2 separate regions of the Homo sapiens genome follow, and region 1 is linked to region 2. A link means that fine-mapping ties the variant in region 2 to the plasma level of a protein whose gene starts in the linked region. Region 2 holds a variant in brackets. A gene starts in the other region. All regions are shown on their forward strands.

Evidence for each region. PIP is the chance, under the fine-mapping model, that this variant and not a neighbour inherited with it causes the effect. Protein levels are from antibody-based Olink assays in UK Biobank. Linkage for the fine-mapping came from a reference panel and not from the study's own genotypes, which makes the PIPs less certain.
Region 1: RNF43 starts here. The variant in region 2 is fine-mapped to the plasma level of the RNF43 protein (UK Biobank, PIP above 0.99).

Annotation. Positions count from the first base shown.
Region 1 is chr17:58,412,596-58,420,886 of GRCh38, forward strand. It overlaps RNF43 (ring finger protein 43), which reads right to left and starts at 4,939. Exons shown (of 10, transcript NM_017763.6): 1 at 4,422-4,939; 2 at 2,731-3,367. The coding sequence starts at 2,982. It overlaps HSF5 (heat shock transcription factor 5), which reads right to left. Exons shown (of 6, transcript NM_001080439.3): 6 at 7,572-8,291.
Region 2 is chr22:22,364,916-22,373,257 of GRCh38, forward strand. It overlaps IGL, the pseudogene ASH2LP2 and IGLV7-46. Among named protein-coding and RNA genes, the nearest start is that of VPREB1, 120 kb to the left of the region's middle. The variant T/G (reference allele first, on the strand shown) is at 3,894.

The DNA of each region.
Region 1 (8,291 bases), not on the chromosome of region 2:
TTTTAGAGGCAATTCTATGGTCTATTTTACTATTCAACAAATTGGGGGCACATTGTCAAGGGGGGGGGTCTCCTTTTGTCTAAGAAAAAATTAAAATCATAATACAAATGAAAATTCAGTCAGTTTGGTCCTTATGAAATTGTCTATACACTGAATTAATTGAGCAAAATGTAAAGAAATGTCTGATTTTCAGAAATTATCTCAGAATTCCAGAAATAACAACATGGTTTTTTTTTTTTTAAATCACTGTTCTCATAACTGTACATTTTTTGGTACATACATAGCATCCTCAAGTTTAAAAAGATTTGACTGCAATCTTTGGAGACAAATAATCTTAACAGGTAACTACAACAATTCATAGGTAGAAGGATTCACAGAATTATCCAGAATTCCTCAAAACCGAAGAGAAGACTACTTTTAGATTTCTGACACCAGGGTACAGCTCTCCATTGAGAAAGCTAAAGTTCAGCAAAGCACATCTCTAGAAGATATAAACAGAACTTCAGTTAAATGGAAGGCTTGGCTAACCACAGTTGAGTAAACCTGAGTTGCAGTGTAATCTGATAAGGAACAAACAGCATGGATTCCAGAAGTGTAAACCATGTGTCCCTAACACACTAGAGTTCTTTGAAAGAATTAATCAAAGAATGGATAAAGAAAACCATATATATAATTCAGAAGCTTGTTTTTTAAAAAAGTTTCTCACAAGAGGCTGTTGAAAAACTTTAATAACTGTTGTAGATTAAAAATTGATTAACAGACAATAAACCGAAACCAATATGGAAAGTATCCAGAAATGAATACTAAGCTAGTGAAAAAACTTATTTAAAGACCTAAACGAAGCATATGTGGACAGAAAGGAGATGACTAAAAATTGCCAATGACATAAAACTATCCACTGTAAAGGCTGAAAGTCTTTGCTAAGTTATGATGAAATTCCCTCTTCACAAAGTAAAAGCAATACTTAATGTATAATGATAGGATCAAAGTTAATAGTTTAAAAAACAAAATAGATTGGTAAGATTTGCCAGAGTGAGAAAAACGATAGAACAATAGAAGACATGATAAAGATTGATAAAATAATGAATGGCAAAGAGAATGCCAACTGGTGCTGTTTGTTTACTTTTTCCTTTATGAAAACACAAACTTTATGTAGAGCTTTATGATAATAAGATTAAAACTTAAAAGAATACATTATTTTATGGAACACATAATTAGCCCACTGAACATGCTATCACAGGTTATCAATAAGGCACGTATGGCTCTCAAAAACTTCAGTGATATCAAAATATGACTAGCAAAATTACTTACGGTCCTAAAATGGAGCACACAATTCATGCTTCAGGGTATTAACTAGGCAAGGCCAGGAAGGAAGTTTCCTTTCCAATTGCCATAGTATTCAAGATGATTTATGAGTTCAGCTTTTAAGTATTCCTAATTCCATTTTAGAATCCAAATTATCTTATTCAAAAAAATCTTATGCCATTTTTCCAGATATACTCTTCTTTCCTATTTTTCTAAATAGCAAAGCCTTCCATTTTCACCTAATTCTCCTTCACTTCATTTATCCCAGCTTCAAAATATTGCCTAAGAAGTGATAATGAATAACCACTAAACCATATATTAAAGAATACATGTTTAGGAATAAGTTCTATAATCTGTTAAATTTTCCTATCTTCTTTAAGTAGACAAAAATTAAAATTCATACAATAAATTGGTTCTGTTCATAGTCTGTTCATACCACAAAATTAAAATTTGAGTTTGGATGCTAAGATGGATCACACTTAAGAATATTTTAACCTGTGTCCAGTAGCTACAGCAAGAAGTGTTCTTTTACATGATAAATTTCAATCAATAAGCAACATCATTTTATGGAGTAAGACAATGGAATGCCCATTAAAAAGGTATAGCCCTCTAGGCTCTGTCTTTACTATGGGGAATGAGCAATTGGTCTATGAAATGCTGTGCCCCCAGTCATTTCATAAATTCACCACATAAAGAATAGGCCATGTATGAATGACTTACAGGCAAAATTCACAGCCTGAAAGCCTAAGAAACTATGTCTGAAAAACTTGGCGGATCAGTAAAAAACATGTTAAATTTAAATTCCTGAAAATGATAAAATTATGTGTGGACAAGGCCAAAGTGATCAGGAGGCAGGTTTACACCTTGTGTCCATTTTGTAATCCAGTCCTCTCCATTTTGGGGTTAGCAATAGGGTGCCACACGTGGTGTAAGGCCAGCCATAGCATTCAAGCTTGACTGAATTTTAAGTGACACAGTAATCAAATATGCTCCAAGGGCATTCCAGAATTTCAGGTGCTGCTGACCATTAAAATCAACCTTCTTAGTGCTTACTTCAATTTAAACAGGATGTAAAATACAATCCTCGCATCAATTAAATATAAGCTCATATATTTCATCTATCAAAAATTAGTGCCCAGAATATATCACTTGAAAAAAAGGTATTATTATGTCTATCTAAGTAGTTATGCAACACCAGTTTAAAATAAGCAGATAATCTTCTAAAATATAGGATTTATGTATTTCCTCCAGAGTATAAAATAATAATTTGCTAAATTTAGAATGCCAATAAGGCAGTATCTACTCTTTCTATGAAATAGAAAGCTAAGCAGTAGAAGCCCGTGTATGGTATTTCATTTGGGAGACAAAAGAAGAAAGACATATTTCAAACAGATGGAAAGTGAAATATAATAAAGTTATACTTGCCTGCATTAATTTTCCTTCTGCTGGAGTTATTTCAGCAACACCAGCAAACACACCTTCCAAAGTGAGATTCAGTTTTCCTGTGGGGTCCATTTTCAAGGGGATCACTCTGATAATAGCTTTCTGTTCTGCTGATCTTTCAGACTCCACCGCTGCTGCCAGTACCAGTCCTGTGCGTCCAAAGCCTGCCTGCAGGGTAGCCATCAGCAGCCAGGGCCAGAGGGCAGCCAGCTGCAGCTGGTGGCCACCACTCATGCTACCAGCTGCAGCAATGCACTTCAACCATACATACTGCTTCCACTAGCTAATACCAAATGCAGGTTCTCAGATCCAGACAAATGGAGGAAAAGAACATTTATGCTTCCGTTTCAGAAAGCCAAGTCGTAGTTTTGGCCCTTCCTTTCTCTAAAGTTTATTCCCAAAAACAGGTAGCATTCCTGATTGGGCAGAGAAGAGGATATTTTCAGCCCACATCTGCTGCAGGTATGTCATTTTCTCCCATCTTCACTGTGACTAGTAAAGATCTCACCACTTCTCTTTGGAATTTCCAACTTTGCTTGTGATTGAATGTCACTTCGTGAATTTGTATTATGTCAGATCACTTGGCATTGCTCTTCCATATGCATCAAGTTGCCAGGCACTAAACCCAATGTTCATGAACAAAACAAGGCAAAGTAAACAGCTAAGGCCATGCATCAAAGGTGAGCGTGAAGAACTCCAGCTCAGAAAAGGAAGGGATGGCCCTTTTTAAGCCATAATATGTGTTAATGGTAAATGACTAAATACCACAAGGAGATTTTTTTTTTAATGGAGGAGAAGAGGGAACAATAATAAAAATTTCAGGCCACACGTTGATGTCCAAAGATGCTACAATATGTATTTAGAAAAGTTTCCACATTAAACTGTATTTCAGTGTGGCCAGGTTTCTAGGCCCACTGCATTTACATACTTTTCATGAACTTAGACATACCATAATTTTTTGTGTTTTACCAAAATTTGCCTATAAATTAGGTGCTAATTTATGTATCTTCACACATTACAGGATAATCCTGAGCATCACAACCTTTTCCAACTTTCATAATTAGAGTATTTGAAAAGGTTAGCTTTCCAATTATTTTTCCCAGTTAAAATTCATATTTCCATCTCCATTTTCTTTTCTCTCTTAAGGATTCTTGATTTTATTCTCCAGCTCGGAAATGCCGAGCACTTTGATTTCCCATGAGATGCTTTTGGAAACTACTTTAATATCCAGATTTTATGATCTGTAATTTTCTAGGTTCATAAGAAAAACAAAGGACTATTCCTCACATGTATCCAAATTCCCTGAGGGGGTAGGGAATAAAAGGTAGGGGGAGCAGGGAGGCGATTAACCACAGGCTCTAGGTAGAATACCCTGAAAAAATACAAATAATCTTGAGTAGAATAGATCTGTGCTATTTCTAGGCACTATGAAAATTTGCGTCTTTGTACAAACACAGAATAAGATTTTTAAAATGTGCACCCTTAAGTAAATATAAATACACCTCACCCACAAAGCCCTCTGTGTTCCAAGGTCAAGTTTAAAAATATTATAAAGTCTTCAGAATAAGTGCTGAAAAGCCAAGCAATTGAACATGAACCTGTTATATGGATTCTTTTCTTTTGCTGAGGCAGAGGGAGGGGGGAAAAAGGAATTTCAAAAGAAATCTGCAAACCTGTTGCGCTGTCGGGCCCACTGGAATCCACGGGGGTGAAACAAATTCAATTATGCTTTTACAGATCCTGCTCAAAAAAGGTTTCAACTGCTTAACCAAGTACAGCTCATTCTTCCACCTTCTTACTCTGCAACCAAACCAAGTGCCCCATACTACAGGTAGGTGCCGAGAAATTCCGCAGCCTGAAAAAATAATCCATGCAGGTCAAAGGCAGAAATTTACTCCGGGATGAGAGATGCTGTCCCCTAGAACTAAATTAAACACTTACAGAAAATCCAAAATCATTTCTGAAACCTCCTTGCTAACAAAAGTTCTTTTTTTCTCCAAACAGCATATAAAATGATCAAGTCTTGAAAGAGAAAAGAAGCAAAGTAGCAAATACATCAACAATTCACTATCAGAAACACATAAAATCCCAGAGAGAGAGAAGGCAGTATCTCTGAATCATGGATGGACTTGGAAAGTTCGGAAGGATTCCGAGTGCTTCCTTTCAGAAAGACAATTCTGGATCAACTCCCTAGAGCAGGAAGCCTGTGGTTTGTAATTGGTGTTCTAGCTCTGACTCCCTCCCCTGGGACTGCAATCACGCTCTCTACCTGCTGACAAAGTGAGGGTGGAGCTGCTAGAGGCAACCACTCCCCACCCTGCCCCCCTCCTCCTGGTGCTCACACACAACACTTACTTAACCAGACCCGTTCTTTCGCTCTCCCCCCTCCCTCAGCTCCTCTACTCCCTCTACTGAGCCACAGCTAAACTGCATCCAATTCGATCCCGAGTACCTTTCTCTGGGTAAGCAAGCTACCACATGCAAATCAGGGCCACTCAAAGATATCTAAGCAGACTCTGCACCCAACAGAGCATAGATGATGGTATGAGGAAATAAACAGAAAAAAATAAAGGTAATCCGGAAGATAAAAGAATGGACACAAGGTTTTGCAAATATAAGTTCAAAAGGATTTCTGCTCATTCCAAGTTTGAGTGTCTATAAATGGCAGAAAGCCAGAATAAAGTGATCCTGTGTTTTAGTACTTACTGATTTATTGCTGCTTATGTCTGCTACCCTGGGAAGGGCTCTGTCCATTTTATGCTTAGCTTTTCTTCAGCTCTTACTAATTTAAATTCAGTAGCTCTGTCTAAACTGTGCCTATATGGAACTTTCAAATCAGGTTGATGTCAGATGTCTGGAATCCAACTGTTATTTTCTTTTCAATCTTTGGGAGGTGAAATAATACTATGGATCAGACCTATGCCTTCAATGTAAGACTCCAAATAAGTCCATGTCATAAATACAAGCCAAAGGGTAAAATATGATTAATGAGAAGAACATAGGCAAAAAGAAAATGAATTTCTGGCTAATTACCACATTCATGAACTATAATCCTTATTACTACCCTGCCATTAGAAATAATACAACAGTTTCTAATACATTTATAACATTTGAAGTTTCAAATTACCAGATTATATTTGACTGTGGTGAGACATTTTATTTCTGAACCGCTGCCATAAACTTTCAAAATTATACAAATGAACAACAATGTGGATATAGTTAAATCTAGTGAACTGTACACTTAAAAATGGTTATGATAGTAAATTTTATGTGTTTCTTACCTCATGTAAAAACGAATCTCTGATCATCTGTAAAATGCTGATGATAATAATTACGATAGGTCTGTTGTAAAGATTAAATGACATAATGCCTCTGAAAGCAAAAAGGATGAGTAGCCTATTGACCTTCAACATTGTTTCCCCTGTAGATAAGGTTTATGACAGTAGTTTCAGAATTTCAGATCTAATAACTAACCTAGATCAAAGACAAATTCGAAAATAAATTTTTTGTTTATTTTTGTTGTTTGAGACAGGGTCTTGTGTTACCCACGCTGGAGCACAGTTGTGCCATCATGGCTCACTGCAGCCTTGACCTTCATGGCCTCCCACCTCAGCCTCCAGAGTAGCTGGGATCACAGGTGCGTCCCACCACACCCTGCAAATTTTTTTTTTTTTTTTTTTGAGACGGAGTCCCGCTCTGTTGCCCAGGCTGGAGTGCAGTGGCGCTATCTCGGCTCACTGCAAGCTCCGCCTCCCGGTTCATGCCATTCTCCTGCCTCAGCCTCCCGAGTAGCTGGGATTACAGGCGCCCGCCACCACGCCCAGCTAATTTTTTGTATTTTTAGTAGAGACGGGGTTTCACCGTGTTAGCCAGGATGGTCTCCATCTCCTGACCTTGTGATCCACCCGCCTCGGTCTCCCAAAGTGCTGGGATTACAGGCGTGAGCCACTGCGCCTGGCCAACACCCTGCAAATTTAAAAAAAATTTTTGTTGGGCCAGGCGTGGTGACTCACGCCTATAATCCCAGCACTTTGGTTGACCAAGGTGGGTGGATCACGAGGTCGGGAATTTGAGACCAGCCTGACCAACATAGTTTAATTTAACATAGTTAAACTAAAAAATAACCTACAAATGGGCTTTGCCTCATCTATTCCTGCTTAAAACGTGCAAAGGAATGAAAAGACCTAGCCCTAGTAATTAATACACACACTTAATTGACAGAAAGAAGACAGTTACAAATGTGGTTGCCCTCTCTTGAGGAAACTCTGAGATTTGGAAATGATGATGATATGCATCATGAACCTGGAGACTTGGAGAAACTCAAGATCAAACCAAACAGCTCTATGTAGCTTAGTTCACTGTTTTAGATCACCAGAATTGCAAGAGCAATTATTCTTCAGCTTCAAAGTTTTGGAGTTACCCTCTAGGGTTGATATACTACTACATTTTCCTAGAGATGTCATAAAGATGCCATCACTATTGTAATGAAATGCCTAAGTCTCAATGACATCTACTAGCTAGTCTTATACATGAGATAGATCATCCTTCAGGATCTACTTTCACCTCTGGATTGATTAAATTTATCAAAGATCATTCATCCTTTTCCAAAAATGTAGGTTTCTGTAAAACATGTCTAAGAATTGTCCTTATCCCTAACGGCATTTAAAAAATTCCATTGCTATTCAAGTACAAATGAAAAAAAACTTTTAAAATTCAGATTATTTGAAAAATAAAGTAAATCTCATTTGAATTATACTATTAACTGTCATAATTATTGAATTTTCTATTAATCACCAAACAGTAAGAACAAGCAAGACAACAAGTCTAGTTGGAACACTCACTTTATTGTTGACTGATTGAAATTTATCAGTGCTTAAGGTGCTGAAATACTGAGGTACTAGTCAGGAACCTTGTTAGTTGACTAGTTGTGTCAGACCCTACTGGCTAATTCACAGGAAGACTTTATTATACCTCTTGCCATTTTGCCCAAGTCATTAATGACAGCTTTAGTTGATAGATACAAGGCGTGTAAGGATAGCAGGAGATCCAGCTCCTTGGTCTGCTGTATTCATATATAAAAATGTTTGGAAAGCTGATTAAGGCATTTCATTAATTAAGCCTTAAAACAACTGAAACCAAATCTATGCCAAGGTTCCTGCTTGACATGTGTTCCTCAAAAGATATTATCTCAACATCTATAAAGCTAAGAAAGCCATATTTAGGGGAAAATCTACACAGTATATTAGCTCTTCAACATGACAGAGAAAAAGCAAAGTTCCTTCATTTGGAAATTGGGTCTCCTCTTCACATACTCTGACAAAATATTATATAGTCTGGCCAAAAGATATAGGTGTCTTGATAATTTGCTCTTTTAAACCTTGCTAATAAAGATAAATAAATGCCCATCACATAGACATTAACTAGTCTAATCAGAGGGACCACACAGGTCGCTTTTCAGAACCTACTTTAATATCTAAACAGAGTCACTGCAGATCAATACAGAGCTCACCCTTTTCCAGAAAAGTAGATCTCTGTAATATTTC
Region 2 (8,342 bases):
TTTAATGTCATATGTAGAATACCCTTAAAAGTCCCACAAAAGAAAACTTTGTCAGAATGATTAAATGTATTCGGTAATATTTCTGAATACAAAAATCACCATGTAAAATTATCTCATGGCTGGGCATGGTGACTCATGCATATAATCCTAACACTTTGAGAGGCTGAGGTGGGAGGACTGCTTGTGGTCAAGAGTTCAAGAACAGCCTGGGCAACAAAGCAAGGCCCTGTCTCTACAAAAAGAGAGAGAGAGAGATGAAAGAAGAAAGGAAAGAAAGAAAGACAGAAAGAAAGGAGGAAGGAAAAGAAAGAAAGAAAGAAAGAAAGAAAAGAAAGAAGGAAGGAAGGAAGAAAGAAAGAAAGAAAGAAAGAAAGAAAGAAAGAAAGAAAGAAAGAAAGAAAGAAAATCTCTTACATTTCAATACTTGAGCAAATAGGAAACAACCCAAAACAAAATCGGGACCCACACCCATTAGGATGGCTTTACCCAAATAATGGAAAATAATAAGTTGTAGCAAAGATGTATAGAAATTATAACTGTAATGCATTGCTGGAGGGACTATAAAATGATGCATCCACTGAGGTGGCCTTGATGACAGTTGCTCAGAAAACTAAACATAGAATTACCATTTTATCAGAATTTTCACTTCTGGGCATGTGCCTCAAAGAATTGAAAGCAGGATCTCAAAATTGTCCACCCTTGTTCGTAGCAGCATCATTCACAATAGCTAAAAGGTGGAGGCAGCCCAAGTGTCATCTAATGGATAAACGGAATATAGTATACACACACAAGGGAATAGTATTCAACCTTAAAAAGAAAGTTCTGACCCATGCGATGGCATGGATGAACCCTAAAGACATCATGCCAACAGAAATAAGCTGGTTTCAAAAGGACAAATGTTGTCTGTTTGCTCTTATATGAGGTACCTAGAGTAGTGAAATCCATAGAGACAAGAAGTAGAATGATGTTTTCCAGGCATGAAATTTTGGTTTGGGAGGATGAAAAATTCCTGGAGACGAATGGTGGTACGTGACTGTACAACAATATTACTTTACTTAATGACACTGAAGCGTGTGGTTGAAAATGGTTAAAATATGTGTTTTGTGTTTGAATAATTTACCACTGTCAAAAACAAAAAGATTTATATTTGGTGCAGTTACAAGAACAATAAAAATATACAGGACTAGGAGAGTGTGCCTGAGTAGCCAGGACACCCTTCCTTCTGTGCCAGCCCCACAGCATCCTAACAGACCAATAGAGTTGGAGGTACCTCATTACAGGTGACACAAAATAACATGAGAAAGTCTGAGAATGGCCATGATGGTAGGGGTGGGTGCCTGACCCAGTCCAGGAGCAGCCTCTAGTGCAACTATGGCCAAAGAAGGGGAGATGAAGCTGGTGGCAATGGTAGCAGCCTCTCCAGCTGGAGAGGGACATCTGCTGTCCTATGAAAATGGCTCATAGTTGATATATCTGGCAAAGACATGTCATCCTGTCTACCTTTCATGACCAACTACAGTTTTCATAGTGCTTTGGTTAAGCTGGCATGGCAGTCCCAAACACAGGATGAATGCTATAGCATTTATTGATAAATACTGGGAGTGCATGATGACCATTCAGACACCTGGGAAAATGACTAGGCTGGATAACATCGTTAAAACAATGAGTAAAGAGAGAGATTTATTCTTGGTAAAGGACCTCCTGGATCCAGGGAGTAAAGACCTGAAAGAAGATTGCCCAAGATTTGGACTTTTGGATCAGGACTTTGGTAAAACTGATCCTGTTTATGACAAGCAAAAGCAAAGCAGTGCCCTGTCTGTGAGTGGGAATCTGAATGGGGCAACTGAACAGGAAGCAGCAGAAAAGAGGAAGAGGAGTTCAGTGCAAACAGCAAGATGAGATCTCAGAGACCACCAAGAAGGCCCAGAGTGACCCTTTGTTTTCTGCTCAGCGCCTTGCCCCTTACACCTTTTAAAACACCCATTTAACAAGGATGGCTACTGGTATATTCCAACCGAGCCTGAGCCACACACCCTTGGTCCTCAGAAGGTTGAAGACTGCTAGGCAGGAGAAATTATTCCTGAAGACCTCTACGGAGCCTGTTTCTGTGAACAGGTTTTGTTAGTCTAACATGATTAAGCTCTCCAGGTAAAGATCTCCAATGACCAGCTGGCTGACTGTGGTTGGAAAGAAGGGTTACTCTATGATGCAGGCCTCTCATGGGGTATGGAAAGGGACCTGGGACTTTGAAATCATCAAGGATGAGTTGTCACCAGACACCACTGCCAATGGGGTTGGTCTCAGTCCTAAGGTAACCATCAATCTCCCTTAGGTTATGATAAACTTAGCTATTCTTGGCAGAGCAAAAGGGAACCAAGTTCCACCTGTCCACTGGCAAATAATACTCTTCTAGCTACGGATGAGGACAGGTCTTGGGATTTTATATTAATCTTCCTGAAAACACAGAGACAGCCAAGTTATTGCCTGATACTTACAAAGATAAGGCTTTGATAAAATACAAGAATTATTTGTATTTTGAGGAAAAAGACATTTTGGATAAAGCACAGAAGAGCCTAAAACAGATTCTGCACAGGCAAATAATATTTTATAAAAATGGTGTCAATTAATATGTTGAATAAAAGGTATTTTTGAGGGGGTTGATTTCCAGCCATCTCACAGGAAAACAACTGCATGGTTTGCATTAACTTTGGACTGTGCTGCGAGTGTCCTCCAAAGGATCTCGCTTACTCCCTTATGAGTGACATGGGCTGGGATGCTGTGGTAGAGCACACTCTGGCTGATGTCTTGTATCTCCTGGAGACAGAAGTGGATGGAGGCACAGTCCTCCATGGGAACCCTGAACAGGTCCCTCTTTCTTTTCAAATATGGACTTTCTGGGGAATGATACTGGACGGCTTCTGTAGTTGTTGTTGTTTTTTGAACTGTCTCAAATGTTTTCCCAAAGATGCTACAGAACATAGCCTATCCATTTAGCAAGTGAAAAGGCTGAATAAGACTGGGAGAGACTCCCTGCTCATCATCATTCTTCTTCCACTTCCAGTGACTGCTCATATTCTGTGCCATAAGCCAACAGCTACTGATCCCAAGATCTTGTAATCCCTCTGTAAAACTGGTGCTGTACTGCATACCTTGCCAGCTGGGACTTTTTATCTTACTGCATTTTCCAGGAATAAATAACCTTGTCCCAAAAACAAACATATTTAAAGACATTTCCTTCTGTGGACACTGATTCCATGCTATCTGTTTTCCAAGGAAGTGGTGAGCCCGTTTCTGAGAACACCTGGTATCAATGGCTGTCCCTTCCAAACCAAGCAAAAAGTGATTTCTTGTCGGTGTGGATTTGGTTTTGTTATTAATTTTAAAACATACCTTTGAAGACTTAGATCTCTGAAACTACTAGATCTCTAGAAGTGTAATTGTGAAAAAAGTTTGCTTGCATCATCAACAACATGAAAAACTCTTTCTAAATAAAATTTGTTTTGAAGTTAAAAAAAAGAATAATGCAAGATTGGAAACTGGGAGGTCTGAAGATTCCCAAGAGCACTCTCAATTCTGAAGCTAATTTTCAGCTCAGGGACCCCAAACAGCCCTTCACTTCTTATGAGTCCCTAGAAGGACTCACATGACTCACTGAAAACTGTGACATTCATTAATGTGATTTTTCTACAGTGAAATAATACAGATTAAAATAATTCAAGGAAAGAGACACATGGGCAGAGTTCAGGAGAATTCCAAGCACAAGCATCCATTTGTCCTCTCCCAGTGGAGTAATAGACAACGCTGCATTCTGCCGGCAACAATGTGTGATTCTATGTAGGAAGCATTGCCAACCAGCAAAGCTCACCCAGGCTTGGTGTCCAGAAAAATTTTGA[T/G]TGGTGGGGTGGGTGAGAGTGGGGTTGTTATGTAGACCTTGATGACCATCCTCATGGCTCACTTGAGTTTCCACTGAATTGACAATAAAACTTCAATCTTCAACCTTTGGTCATTTTCTTTTAAAAAATTTTCTAAAGAAAATTATTTTAAAAAGTCTCATATAAACGAGCTGTTTATCCAATATGAGGCTCAACGCAAATAGTTTCAAAAAGTCAGTAGGTCATTAAAACAATTATTTAGTCATTCAAACTAAATATTTAGTCATTCAAACGTTGTTATCTGGTGTTCAGATAGCAACGAACACCATGTAGCACTAAAATCGCATTATAGTCACAGGGGCAGGATTTCAGCAACAGCAAGAGAAAGTAATACAAACAGGAATGAGCAAAGAATAGACAAGTAATGGGTATGAATTGGCCTGGGAAATATTGTGGCAATGTCCAAAGACAAATCAATAGTTATTTGTTAAAGAAGTGAAAGACAACACATTCTCAGTCCAGGAAAGCCACCAGGGGGTGGTCTGGGTCTCTTGGATTGTAAGAAGCTCAAGAGGTTCAAACTTAATGAACCCTGCACAGATGCTCACTGACTCATGGAAATGTTAGAGCAGCTGCTTCCTCCCACAGGACAAATCCACAGCACACAGCCACCCTGGGCTGGCCCCCCACAGTGTAGCTGCTCTCAGGGCTGTGGACCCAGGTGGTGATAAAGGCAGTAAAGATTTGCATAAAGCAGCACACAGCACACCCCCTCCGTGCGGAGAGCTCAATAGGAGATAAAGAGCCATCAGAATCCAGCCCCAGCTCTGGCACCAGGGGTCCCTTCCAATATCAGCACCATGGCCTGGACTCCTCTCTTTCTGTTCCTCCTCACTTGCTGCCCAGGTTAAGAGAGATTTCAAATACCAGCCTTTGGAGGGATCCCTTTTTCTCCCTTTCTAATTCCTAATATATGTCTGTTTTTTTTGTTTCAGGGTCCAATTCCCAGGCTGTGGTGACTCAGGAGCCCTCACTGACTGTGTCCCCAGGAGGGACAGTCACTCTCACCTGTGGCTCCAGCACTGGAGCTGTCACCAGTGGTCATTATCCCTACTGGTTCCAGCAGAAGCCTGGCCAAGCCCCCAGGACACTGATTTATGATACAAGCAACAAACACTCCTGGACACCTGCCCGGTTCTCAGGCTCCCTCCTTGGGGGCAAAGCTGCCCTGACCCTTTTGGGTGCGCAGCCTGAGGATGAGGCTGAGTATTACTGCTTGCTCTCCTATAGTGGTGCTCGGCACAGTGACAGACCCATGAGAGGAACCAAGACATAAACCTCCCTCGGCCCTTGTGATGTGGAGATCACATGATCAGACATGCCAGATCCCAAGATAGCCTACATGTGGACCAGCCATAGAAAGGGGAAGGAAAGGGTTTGAATTGATTCCTATTTCTACTTAAGTCTTGATGTGTAGGAAATGTAAGAATGATTTGGGAGTAACTGGATCAAAAAAAAAAAAGGAAAAGTTAATTGTTTTCTATTCTAAAAGGAACACTAACAGCAGGATCACATATAAAGGCTGGGTCAAAATGCATTTCCTCCAGAAAGAAGCATCTTCAGTGTATAGGCTTTCTGAGCTAAGAGCAAAGAAACTTTTTTTGCATATTACTGAAGTTTGTTTTATTGAGTTACTTTCAAACCAATACCTCCAGAAAGAAGCATCTTCAGTGTATAGGCTTTCTGAGCTAAGAGCAAAGAGAAGAAACTCTTTTTTTGTATATGACTAAAATTTGCTTTATTGATTTACTTTCAAACCAATACATGCCTATTATATAAAATAAAAATATTAAAAACCACCAAGTTCACTGCAAAGCTGTCTCATCAGAAACAATCCAATTTCTTCATTTGGATGCATTCTTTCATTTTTGTTCTCAATATTTCCACAATGGGGGTCATACCTTGTGCTTTTTCTCTCTGGTTTTACACATCTTTATGCCTCCTCCCACACCCTGTGCCTCTCTCCTGACTCTCAGGGTCCTGGGCAGTCAGGGCTCACTTGGTAGCCTGCACAGTCTGTCTGTGACAAAACCAGTCACCATCTCCTGCACTGGAATCAGCAGCAATAAGGTTCTTGGAATTGTGTCCTGGTACCAACAATGACAAGGAAGTGCCTCCAAACTTCTGATGTATAGAAGCAAATATCTGCCTGCAGGGACCCAGGATGGATGCTCGGGCTACCAGTTTGGCAAGGAGGCCTTCCCAAGCATCTCTGGGCTCCAGGCTGAGGACAACGCTGATCTCAACTGTTGGCTTCAGACAGCCCCCTGGAGGCCCAAACAGTGCTGCAGTCTGGGGGAGTGAGACAGGAACATGTCAGGTCTCCTAGGAGCACGACCTAACTACAGCACCATACAACCAGGACAGCAGGGCTGTTTACCATTTGTGTGCATGTTTGCTGGTGCTTCTGCTAACCAGGACCCAGGGCTCAGATTAGGGACAGTGATCTAGAGAATGCTGCTTTGTTTTCTCAGGGCCAGACTTCAGAGAGAGCCCTTGGCCACAGCATTGTCAGACTGCCTCAGAAGAATCAGAAAGTCCTTGATTTCTGGAACAGGCTGCCCTGGGAATACAGCCATGATAGGCCAGGGCAAGCAGGGACAGAATCCAGCTGGGTCTGTCTCAGGCATGTGCACTAATAAAGATCTCTGTTTGTCCTTATTGTTTACTGAATACCTACTATGTGCCAGGCTCAGGTCTCATGCTAAGGATACAGAGGTGAGAAGACAGACAGGGATTCTGTCTTCACAGGACTGACACCATGCAGAAAAGTGAGGGCCAACAAGTCAATAGGAGTAAGGCATATTGTGGTGTATCCAAGAGGTGACACTGGCCAGAAGGGGGAGAGCAATAGGAAGCCCTTAGGGAGTTGTAAGCAAGGAAGACACGGAGTCTGATGGGAGACTTAGGAGAAAAGTCCAGCTTCTCCAAAGAAGATGAAAAAGGAGGGGAGAGAGTGAAAGTGGAGGGTCTAATTAGGAGACGGTAGCTTTCTCCACATGAGAGATGAGGTCTCCAGCAAGTGATGAAGCAGCTGAGGTGGTGAAATATGCGTGACCCACACCATGGTGAGTAAGACCAAAGGAAAGAGGTCACTAGGTTGAGGCCCAAAGCTTGTTCCTGTGATATAAACCTGACAACATCCTCTTGCCGTTACTGAGTGTCTCACACACCTTTTTTCTTTGGATATCTCCTGGGACTCAGGACTCATTGCTGCCCTTCCCTCGTATTCAGTGAGATTCATTTCGAACATCACTTTTCACACCCAGAGAGAGACCTGGCTCCTTTGTATGGAGCAAAAGCACTGAGGGTCAGGACAGAACATTCTACAGAACATGGGATGATGCCTTACACACTAAAGGACTGCTGTTAAAGCTCGTGATCAAACCTCCCCGGAGCTACATCAGAAACCACGAGAGGGGAGGTGTCAGCGCTTAGGTGCCTGATTTCAGGGCACACTAATTTGCAGTTTGTCCAGCTCCCTCCCAGGCATTTTTATCCACCCTTCTCTTTACCTCCTTTCATCCTTGCCTCCTTCTCAGGGCGGGCCTCCAGGCCTGTGGTGTCTCTGCTGCTCTGTCTCCATCACAAACAGAGCAGTAGGGAGATTATCTGATAATGAAGTTCCCTCCTCATACTCAGTTATCTGGTTCCCCTTAGGAATTCTTCTGCATCATGGGAATGTTCTGTTTTATTTCTGCCCTACAGTAGGAACCCAGCCATTTGTGAGGCCAAGGAGATTGACCTCTTTCCGTTGAAGCAGGATTATATTTAACACATGTATTCAAATAACATCATCAACTTATGAACAAGTCAATCCATTCTTCAGAATTATAGAAATGCATGTCTCTCAGCTGTCAGCAATTGGCCTCAGATCCCTAGAGTGGCGAACTTGTCAGGGTGGGGTCAGCCACATGAAGATGTTTCTTTATAGTTAGTGACTCTATTCACTGGGTTTCCCCTGTTGAGATCCAACCTCCATGAGACTGTTTATTGTTGTTGTTGTTTTCTGTCTTGTCATTGCCCAAAATGCTGCCTGGCACTAAGGAAAGACTTAATACATGTTTATTAAATATGTGAGTTCACCTACATTGGAATCCCAAAAAGAGGTACAGATCTGAGGTCAAGTTAATAATTTTTAAAAAAATTCTGGATATTTTGTGTTTGAGATTCCAAGTTCATTCAATAGAAGATATTAAGTATGAAGTTTTGCCTTTGGATTTGGTTAGCAGGAGAAGGATATGGATATGAAAATACAAATGGATCACACATACCTCCCCATGGCCCAGAGTCTTGAGTGCCTAGCTGCTCTCTGCAGCTCCTAATCACAGCCTCTGTTCACTCATTTATGGTCTGATTCCCATGGATCCATACATGCTGGATCCCATGGGCTTATGTGGAGAAAGTGGA